2 separate regions of the Homo sapiens genome follow, and region 2 is linked to region 1. Evidence: fine-mapped expression QTL. A gene starts in region 1. The other region holds a variant in brackets. All regions are shown on one strand. Distances are between the middles of the regions. Region 1 holds the start of DNAJC27 (DnaJ heat shock protein family (Hsp40) member C27). Region 2 overlaps EFR3B (EFR3 homolog B).

Region 1 (4,520 bases):
AAACCATCATCACAGTGAAAAAAAATTTTTTTTTTCTTTTTAGAGTCTCACTCTGTCGCCTAGGCTGGAGTGCAGTGGCACAATCTGGGCTTACTGCAACCTCCACCTCCCAGGTTCAAGGCAATTCTCCTGCCTCAGCTTCCTGAGTAGCTGGGACTACAAGCGTGCGCCACCATGCCTGGCTAATTTTTTGTATTTTAGTAGAGATGGGGTTTCACCATGTTGCCCAGGCTGGTCTCGAACTCCTGAGCTCAGGCAATCCACCTGCCTCTGCCTCCCAAAGTGCTAGAATTACAGGCGTGAGCCACTGCGCCCGGCCTGAAAAATATTTTTAAATGGCTGATACAGTTGGTCTTCTTTCATTTCTTTTTTTTCCCCACAATTTTCTTTGTTGTTTTCACATTAATTTTTCATGAAGACTTTAGTAGTCTTGTATTATGTTCTGGGAAAAAAAAACCCTTATTGATGTTTTCACTGGAATTGAATTTCATTTGTAGGTTGAGTAATTCACATCTGTACAATATTGTGTAATCCCACGTAAGGAAAAAGTATATCTTTCCATTTGCCTAAGTAATTTATCTCCCTTTGTAGAGTTTGAAACTTGTCTTCATATAGGTGCTGCCTATTTCATGTTAAGTTTAAACCTAGGAACTTTATTTTTGTTGTAACTGTAAATTAAAATTGTTTTTCAATTACACATTCCAACTGAATATAATTTGGACACAATAAAGTTATTAATTTGTGGGTAATAATTTTGCTTTATTGAATTTTTATAATGTTTCTAATAGTTTTTCAGTTATTTCTCTTTGGGTTTCCAGGTAAACAATCGTATTATTAGCAAATAATGTTAATTTTACCTTCTCTTTTCTAATATTTTTATATTCTCTTACTCTTGTCTAATTGCACTGGCTAATAAAACTAGAAAAATGTTAAGTAGATGTGGTGACACTGGGCATTCTGAGCTGCTTCTAATGTTGTATCATTAGGCACAGTAAAATTACTTTTTTTTTTTTTTTTTTTTTTGAGACGGCGTCTCACTCTGCCGCCCAGGCTGGAGTGCAATGGCGTGATCTCGGCTCACTGCAGCCTCTGCCTCCCCGGCTTAAGCGATTCTCCCGCCTCGGCCTCCCAAGTAGCTGGGATTAAAGGCGTGCACCACCATGCCTGGCTAATTTTGCATTTTTAGTAGAGACAGGATTTCACTATGCTGGTCTTGAACTCCTGACCTCAAGTGATCCGCCCGCCTCGTCCTCCCAAAGTGCTGATGTATTACAGGCCTGAGCTAGCGTGCCCAGTCCCTAGAAAAAAAAAAACACCTCGTACACAGCTGACGTTCAAAAAAATGTTGACTTTCAGTGAATACTATGCTAGCACATACACACAAAAGTAGTACGGGATCATGCTACACAGAAATAAAAAACACTAAGTAAACATTTACTGAGCATCTCCTGGGTGCCAGGCACTGGACTAGGCACTGCCTTAACAGCTCTTTCGGAGTTGATTTTGAACGCATACAACGACGGAAAGAGCACCGCAGTGGGAATGTGAAGACTTAGGTTCTAATCTTTCCTCGGTCACTGATTTGATGACCTTGGGAAGTTCTTAACCAACAGATTCCACTTGCCCAAAAGGAAAGAATTTGAGTGAAGAGGAGGCCGTCTTGGAATTCATAAGGGAAAAGGCCTCAGGTTACCTCTGGCCTTCCCTCCCCACGTACTAAAGGAGAGTTTATAGCTGATGAACCACAGATGGGGCAGAGAGAAGGGCGGTGGAACTAACAGATATGGGGACACCACCAAAAATAAAACACAACGCAAAACAAAACAGCGCGGACCCCGGCCATCCCTTGCACCTCCCCTGTGAAACACGTCAACGTCAGTTACGCTCTCTCGTGACGGGAATGCAGAATCTGGGCTGCCGGGCACCATTTCGCGAACCCCAAATTCTCACACGCACCCCATAACGTTCCGCCGGCTCCCAGGCCCGGCTGGGGGAACTAAACTTTCATCCTCCATCTCCCGGTCCCGGACGGCCCCCTAGAACGCGGGCAAGGTATCTAGGCCGACGGCCCCTCATGGGGACCCAGGCCTTCTTACTCTTTTGGGGGTACATTCAAGGCTTAGAGGCCACCCCAGACACCATCTCCGGAAGAGTGACGTCGGAGGACGAGGGGGCAACGGAAAGGTCAAAAAGGTCGGGGAGTTTCGTTCGCGGAGCCGCACCCCTCGGCTGAGACCCGGGCCTGCTCGGGGGCGGAGAGGAGGCCGGGCCCCAGGCTGTTGAGTGGCCGCCCTTCCAGCCAATGGACACGTCGCCCCGCCACGCTGGGGCCCGCCCCTCCCGGCTCGCTGTACTCACTTTCCCCACTTCGGCGTTGCCCATGGAGATGACTTTGATGCGGAGAGACCTGCCGGGCTCCTTCCGCTTCGGCATGTTGGCCTCCATGGCCCTGGCTCTCTCGGGGCCACCCGCCTCGGTCTCTTCTTGTGCACCGCTGGCCCGTCCCTCAGGCCTCCTCGTCCAATGGCGGAGCCGCTGCTCTCGTCACCGCCTCGCCTCCGCTGCTCGCCATCCCCGCCGCTGCCTGGCAGCAGGCGCGGGCGGTTGGGAGCGTGGGGAGCCGGGGGAGGGAGACGGGAGTCTCGCGATGCTAGCGCGGGGCTGCTGACGTCATCTGCAGGCCCTGGAGACGCGACTGCAGTTACCGAGTTTCTAAGGCCTCGTCCCCTGACGGGAAGGCGGCGTTGGGGGGCGGCTGGGTTTACCCTTCGAGGTGAGCGCGTCCTTGTTTTCAGGGACGCCCGGACGGGAGGCGTTTGTTGCTTTCGCAGCCGAGTGGTGGAAATGTATTGGCTCTTCAGGGCGGGTCTGGTAGTGTCTCGTCCGTTTGGGAGTGTTTTTTTTTTTTTCTGGATTCTTTTTCGGTTCCATGGGCCGGGCTGCTGCTCCTCTTCCCCCTCCAATATTTTGTTCCCCTTGCTCGAGATCCCCGAGAGGCAGACCCCAAAGCCAGGAAAGTGGGGAGGTCGGAACCCTGGTTCTGGAAGAGGGCCTTGGGCAAGGCGTGAAGCGATTCTGAATCTGGTTCCTATTGTTTTTTATTTTAAATGGAGTTGTCTATTTGGAGTCAAGGCAAGAGTGTTTAGTCTTGGCCCTCCTATTACAGATCTCTGATGGATTTGTTGACTCCTCTGTGGGAGAAAGGCTTGGTCTACTGCAGGTGTTAACGCTAAGCCAGGCTGGAGCTGTGGACGTCAGTTTCCTCAGCTCCCCGCTGTTCGCTTCGAACGTGACCTCGACGTCTGCTCTCCCCTTCCCTTTAGCTGACAATGTGACAGTGCTTGAATAAAAGTCAGTCTGACAGGAACGGTAATTTTTTTTCAGTGAATATCTTCAGTTACAGAAGATAAATAGAACTTGACAATGATTATTTATAGTGCCCTGAAAAAAAATGGCTGCCAATTTCCCTGTATATTACAAAGACAAAAGTAGCATTGCTTCTTTTCTCACCTAACTTTAAACATCTTAAGGGAAGTGCATTACAGGAAGGCAATGAGCAAAGGCTCAACATTTCACAGTAAAGTCAGATTTTCCACATTTTAATTTTAAAATGTGTTTTTTAAACATTAAGTTTTTTTTAAGACAAGTTTATTCTGGATTGTTTTGATAATCAAATAATATAACTTAATTCACTGAAGCTTCTAAAATTATTTACAAATATGAAATATAAGTCCTGGTTAGAATTTGGATAGTTTTAAAGCTTAAAAGAATCCACATGCTAACTTCTCAGTATGATTTAATAAATCAAATTACTAAACATGTAATTTCTTCGACAGTTCACCTTTGGCCCTGTAATAGGGTAACTGGTATTGTGGAAGAATAATTATAAAATGTCAAATCTTCAGCTGTTATGATTGATTAAGTATGGTGCTGTTGAGACTAAGCAGTAAAACATGCCACAGATTTAAATTGATTACTATTTTTTTCATATTGATGGGGTTTTTTTTGTTTTTGTTTTTGTTTTTGAGACAGAGTTTCCCTCTTGTTGCCCAGGCTAGAGTGCAGTGGCACAATCTCTGCTCACTGCAACCCCTGTGTCCCGGGTTCAAGCAATTCACCTGCCTCAGCCACCCGAGTAGCTGGGATTACAGGCACCCACCGGTATACGCAGATAATTTTTGTATTTTTAGTAGAGACGGGGTTTCACCATATTGGCCAGGCTGGTCTCGAACTCCTGACCTCAGGTGACCCTCCTGCCTTTGCCTCCCAAAGTGTTGGGATTACAGGCATGAGCCACAGCGTCCGGCCCATATTGATGCTTTTGACACTTTATTGTATATAGCTACATTTTCTACTGTGTGTATTAAATTAGTTTGGAATCGAAAGAGCAAGAAAGTTGTTTTTTTTCCCCCACTCTTTGAATATAAAAAAATAAAAATCAGCACGAGTTAGCTGCTTTTTCCATAGTATGGACCTGGGAGGTATAGTGTGAGCATGGATTCTGGAGCCAGCCCGATACA
Region 2 (4,000 bases), 97 kb after region 1:
ACTGTCCAGTGTGGTAGCCATTAGCCACATGTGGCTAGTGAACACATAAAATGTGGCTAGTTTGCTGGAGGAACTGAATTTTTAAATTTTATTTAATTTAAGTAGCCACAAGTGACTAGTGGCTACCATATTGGGTAGTGCAGTTTAAGTCGCTCCTCACCCTCTCCATCCCTAGGCACCCCCACCCAGCTCTACTCGGTGACCAGCGTTAACACTGTGCTGTGTATCTTTACAGATCTTTCTTTGTTCATGACAGCATATTTCACGCACATATTTACATACACACCCCATTGGTTTGGCCTGTGAGGGTGCACACAAATGGAATCATATCATAGGTGTTCTACAGCCTCCTTTTTAGTTTTTGTTTTTTTTTTTTTGTTTTTTGTTTTTGAGATAGAGTCTCACTCTGTTGCCCAGGCTGGAGTGCAGTGGCATGATCTCGGCTCACTGCAACCTCCGCCTCCTGGGTTCAAGCAATTCTCCTGCCTGAGCCTCCCAAGTAGCTGGGACTACAGGCGCCTGCCACCCCGCCTGGCTAATTTTTTTATTTTTAGTAGAGACGGGGTTCACCGTGTTAACCAGGGTGGTCTCGATCTCCTGACCTCGTGATCTGCCTGGCCACAGCCTCCTTTTGAATTAACAGTATGTTTGAGAGCTGTCTGGGGCGGTGCTCAGAGCTCTGCTTCATTCAATTCAGCTGCTGCCTAGTGTGCATTGCATGGCTGTTCCCTGCCTTATTTAGCCAGCCCTCTATTTTCTTTTTTAATGTTAAAACTTTTTTTTCTTTTGGAAAAAAAAATAGAGATGGGGATCTCGCCATATTGCTCAGGCTGGTCTCAAACTCCTGGGCTTAAGTGATCCACCCACCTTGGCCCCCAAAGTGCTGGGATTACAGGTGTGAGCCACCGCACCTGGCCTTTCCAGTCCCCTATGGATGAGCATTGTAGGCTGTTTCCAAACAAAGGCACCAGATCCATCTCTTACCTGCTTCCCTGTGCATACGAGCAGGTGCAGATACCCAGACATGGGCTTTCTGAGCCAAGGGGAGGAAAAGCATCCATGCTTCTCCTGTGGTGCTCTCACCCCTGGTTCTCCTGGACTGGGTGTGTAAGGTCAGGGCTGATGTGTGTATGAGCCATAAGTCTGAGATGCTGCTGGGGAGCCATTATTTATTTAGTTTTTTTGAGGAAGCCGACAGTCGTGTCCTACTCTGATCTCTGTTTCCACTCCCCACACTGAGGAGCTGAAACTTAGATTTTATCAAACAGACTGTGATGAGCCCTAAAAATACTGAGACATTAATAACAATTTGAAGCTGACAGACATAGACAGCAGGCATCTGCAAGCTGAGTCAATGCAGGCTTGAGGAAGATCGGGAAGGCTCCACGCCTCATTTTCTAAGTTAGATTTCTCAAGCCTCATTCATTATGCTCATCCTGGGGCACAAGCATAAGATAACTGGGTTTAAGGGCCTGTGTGTTTGCTAGCATTTGAATATTAGGTGTTGAGCAATGAATAAAACAAAGATTCACCGTATGATCTGTGCTGGAGTCACTTTTGTTTTTTTTATGTTTTTTTTTTTTTTGAGACAGATTCTCGCTCTGTCCCCCAGGCTGGAGTACAGTGGCGCGATCTCGGCTCACTGCAAGCTCCACCTCCCGGGTTCATGCCATTCTTCTGCCTTAGCCTCCAGAGTAGCTGGAACTACAGGTGCCTGTCACCACGCCCAGCTAATTTTTTGTGTTTTTAGTAGCGATGGGGTTTCACCGTGTTAGCCAGGATGGTCTCTATCTCCTGACCTTGTGGTCCGCCCACCTTGGCCTCCCAAAGTGCTGGGATTACAGGCGTGAGCCACCGCGCCCGGCATCTTTTTTTTTTTTTTTTTTTCTGAGACAGAGTCTCACTCTGTCACCCAGGCTGGAATGCAGTGGCGCGATCTTGGCTCACTGCAACCTCCGCCTCCCGGATTCAAGTGATTCTCCTGCCTCAGCCTCACCACCACACCCAGCTAATTTTTGTATTTTTAGTAGAGATGGGGTTTCACCATGTTGGCCAGGCTGGTCTTGAACTCCTGACCTCAGGTGATCCGCCCACCTCGGCCTCCCAAAGTGTTGGGATTACAGGCATGAGCCATTGCGCCTGGCCTGTACTGGAGTCACTTTCTAAGTAAGCAAAGGAGGCCAGGCCTTGGGCACAGCAGCGAAGCCAGGGTCAATTAAAGCGAGATGAGAAGCCATCGCTTGTCTCTGGTGGCCACGATGTATCTTGTCTGATGCTTTTTTCCCCTCTTCCTGATTTCAAACCATGCTAAAATAAAGATTATTAAAGATTCCATACTAATGTAGGCTAGGCGACCCCCAAAGTGAGGCTTAGTCTGTGACGGTTCTTGGCTTTGCCCAGGAAAGAATTCAAGGGCAAGCTAGTGATAGAGTAGAAGAA[A/G]ACAGCCTTATTGAAGTGGCAGCATTACAGCTCCAGCGGTGTTCCAGCTCCATGACTGCTCCTGCAGGGCAGGGCTACCATGTAGACAATCTGTCTGAGAGTAGCAGCTCAGGGCAGTTTTGCAGTCGTGTTTATACCACTTTTAATTATATGCAGATTAAGGGGCAGTATGTGCAGAAATCTCTAGGGAAGGGGTAGTAACTTTTTGTTTTTGAGACGGAGTCTTGCTCTGTTGCCCAGGCTGGAGTGCAATGGCACGATCTTGGCTCACTGCAACCTCTGCCTCCCGGGTTCAGGACATTCTCCTGCCTCAGCCTCCCAAGTAGCTGGGACTACAGGCATGCGCCACCACGCCTGGCTAATTTTTTTGTATTTTCAGTAGAGACGGGGTTTCACCGTGTTAGCCAGGATGGTCTCAATCTCCTGACCTCGTGATCTGCCTGCCTCGGCCTCCCAAAGTGCTGGGATTACAGGCCTGAGCCCCCACACCCAGCCAGGGTTGTAACTTTTGATTCATCAGGTCATTGATTATTCATCAGGTCCTTGCTGTCGAAAGGACAGTAACTCCTGGCTATTGCCATGGCAATGGTAAACTGACATGGCACACTGGTGGGTGTGGCTTATGAAAAGCTGCTTCTGCCTTGTTTTAGCTAGTCCTCAATTTGGTCCAGTGTTCAAGCCCCACCCCCAGAGTCGAGTCCCACCTCCTACCTCATTACACAATATTTTCCCTGTGATTACCGGGGGCTTCTGATGATTTTATTTATTTATTTACTTTGAGACAGAGTCTTGCTCTTTCTCCCAGGCTGGACTGCAGTGGCGCAATCTTGGCTCACTGCAACCTCCGCCTCCCGGGTTCAAGCAATTCTCCCACCTCAATCTCCTGAGTAGCTGGGATTACAGGTGCATGCCACCACGCCCGGCTAATATTTACATTTTTAGTAGAGATGGGGGTTTCACCATGTTGGCCAGGCTGGTCTCGAACTCCTGGTCTCAAGTGATCCACCTGCCTCAGCCTCCCAAAGTGCTAGGATTACAGGCGTGAGCCACCGCATCCTACTGGCTTCTGATGATTTTAAAATTCAAATCTGGAGGAGCTAGTGATGGCTGATAAGAAAATGAAGGAGGAAAGCAGTGAACAGCAGGTGACATCCTTTCTATTTGAAACGTCCCTCCAGCAGCCAGGAGTGGGAGATATTTGGCAGGAATGGGCCACTGTCAATGAAGAGCTGAGGAAGGGAGAGAGGCGGGGTGGCAGTGGGAAGAGATGGAGGGCGCAGAGGCTCAGAGGGACAGACTCTACTAAACTGCTCATCTGACAAACTGTGAAGGCACACAACATTGGGAGGGTGAAGATATCCATTCGGATTAATGCAGAGATCCGCACGTTAATGGAAATGAAAACAAAGGAGAAAATTCATTGTTGCTTAATACACCACAGGTCAGGCTCAAGCTCTTTTCTTTTCTTTTCTTTTTTGAGACGGAGTCTCGCTCTGTCGCCCAGACTGGAGTGCACTGGTGCGATCTGGGCTCACTGCAAGCTCCGCCTCCCGGGTTCATG

Evidence for each region. PIP is the estimated chance that this variant, and not a neighbour inherited with it, causes the effect.
Region 2: its variant is the best candidate, but not a certain one, in a credible set for the expression of DNAJC27 in whole blood (INTERVAL, PIP 0.66).

What each region holds. Positions count from the first base shown.
Region 1 is chr2:24,969,460-24,973,979 of GRCh38, forward strand. DNAJC27 (DnaJ heat shock protein family (Hsp40) member C27) reads right to left here and starts at 2,496. Exons shown (of 7, transcript NM_016544.3): 1 at 2,359-2,496. The coding sequence starts at 2,445. It overlaps DNAJC27-AS1 (DNAJC27 antisense RNA 1), which reads left to right and starts at 2,653. Exons shown (of 3, transcript NR_034113.1): 1 at 2,653-2,773. RefSeq lists enhancers at 1,907-2,036, 1,990-2,508, 2,047-2,156, 2,417-2,526, 2,509-3,027 and 2 more and a silencer at 2,207-2,286.
Region 2 is chr2:25,067,063-25,071,062 of GRCh38, forward strand. All of the region lies in intron 1 of EFR3B (EFR3 homolog B), which reads left to right. Among named protein-coding and RNA genes, the nearest start is that of EFR3B, 27 kb to the left of the region's middle. RefSeq lists a silencer at 3,213-3,355. The variant A/G (reference allele first, on the strand shown) is at 2,440.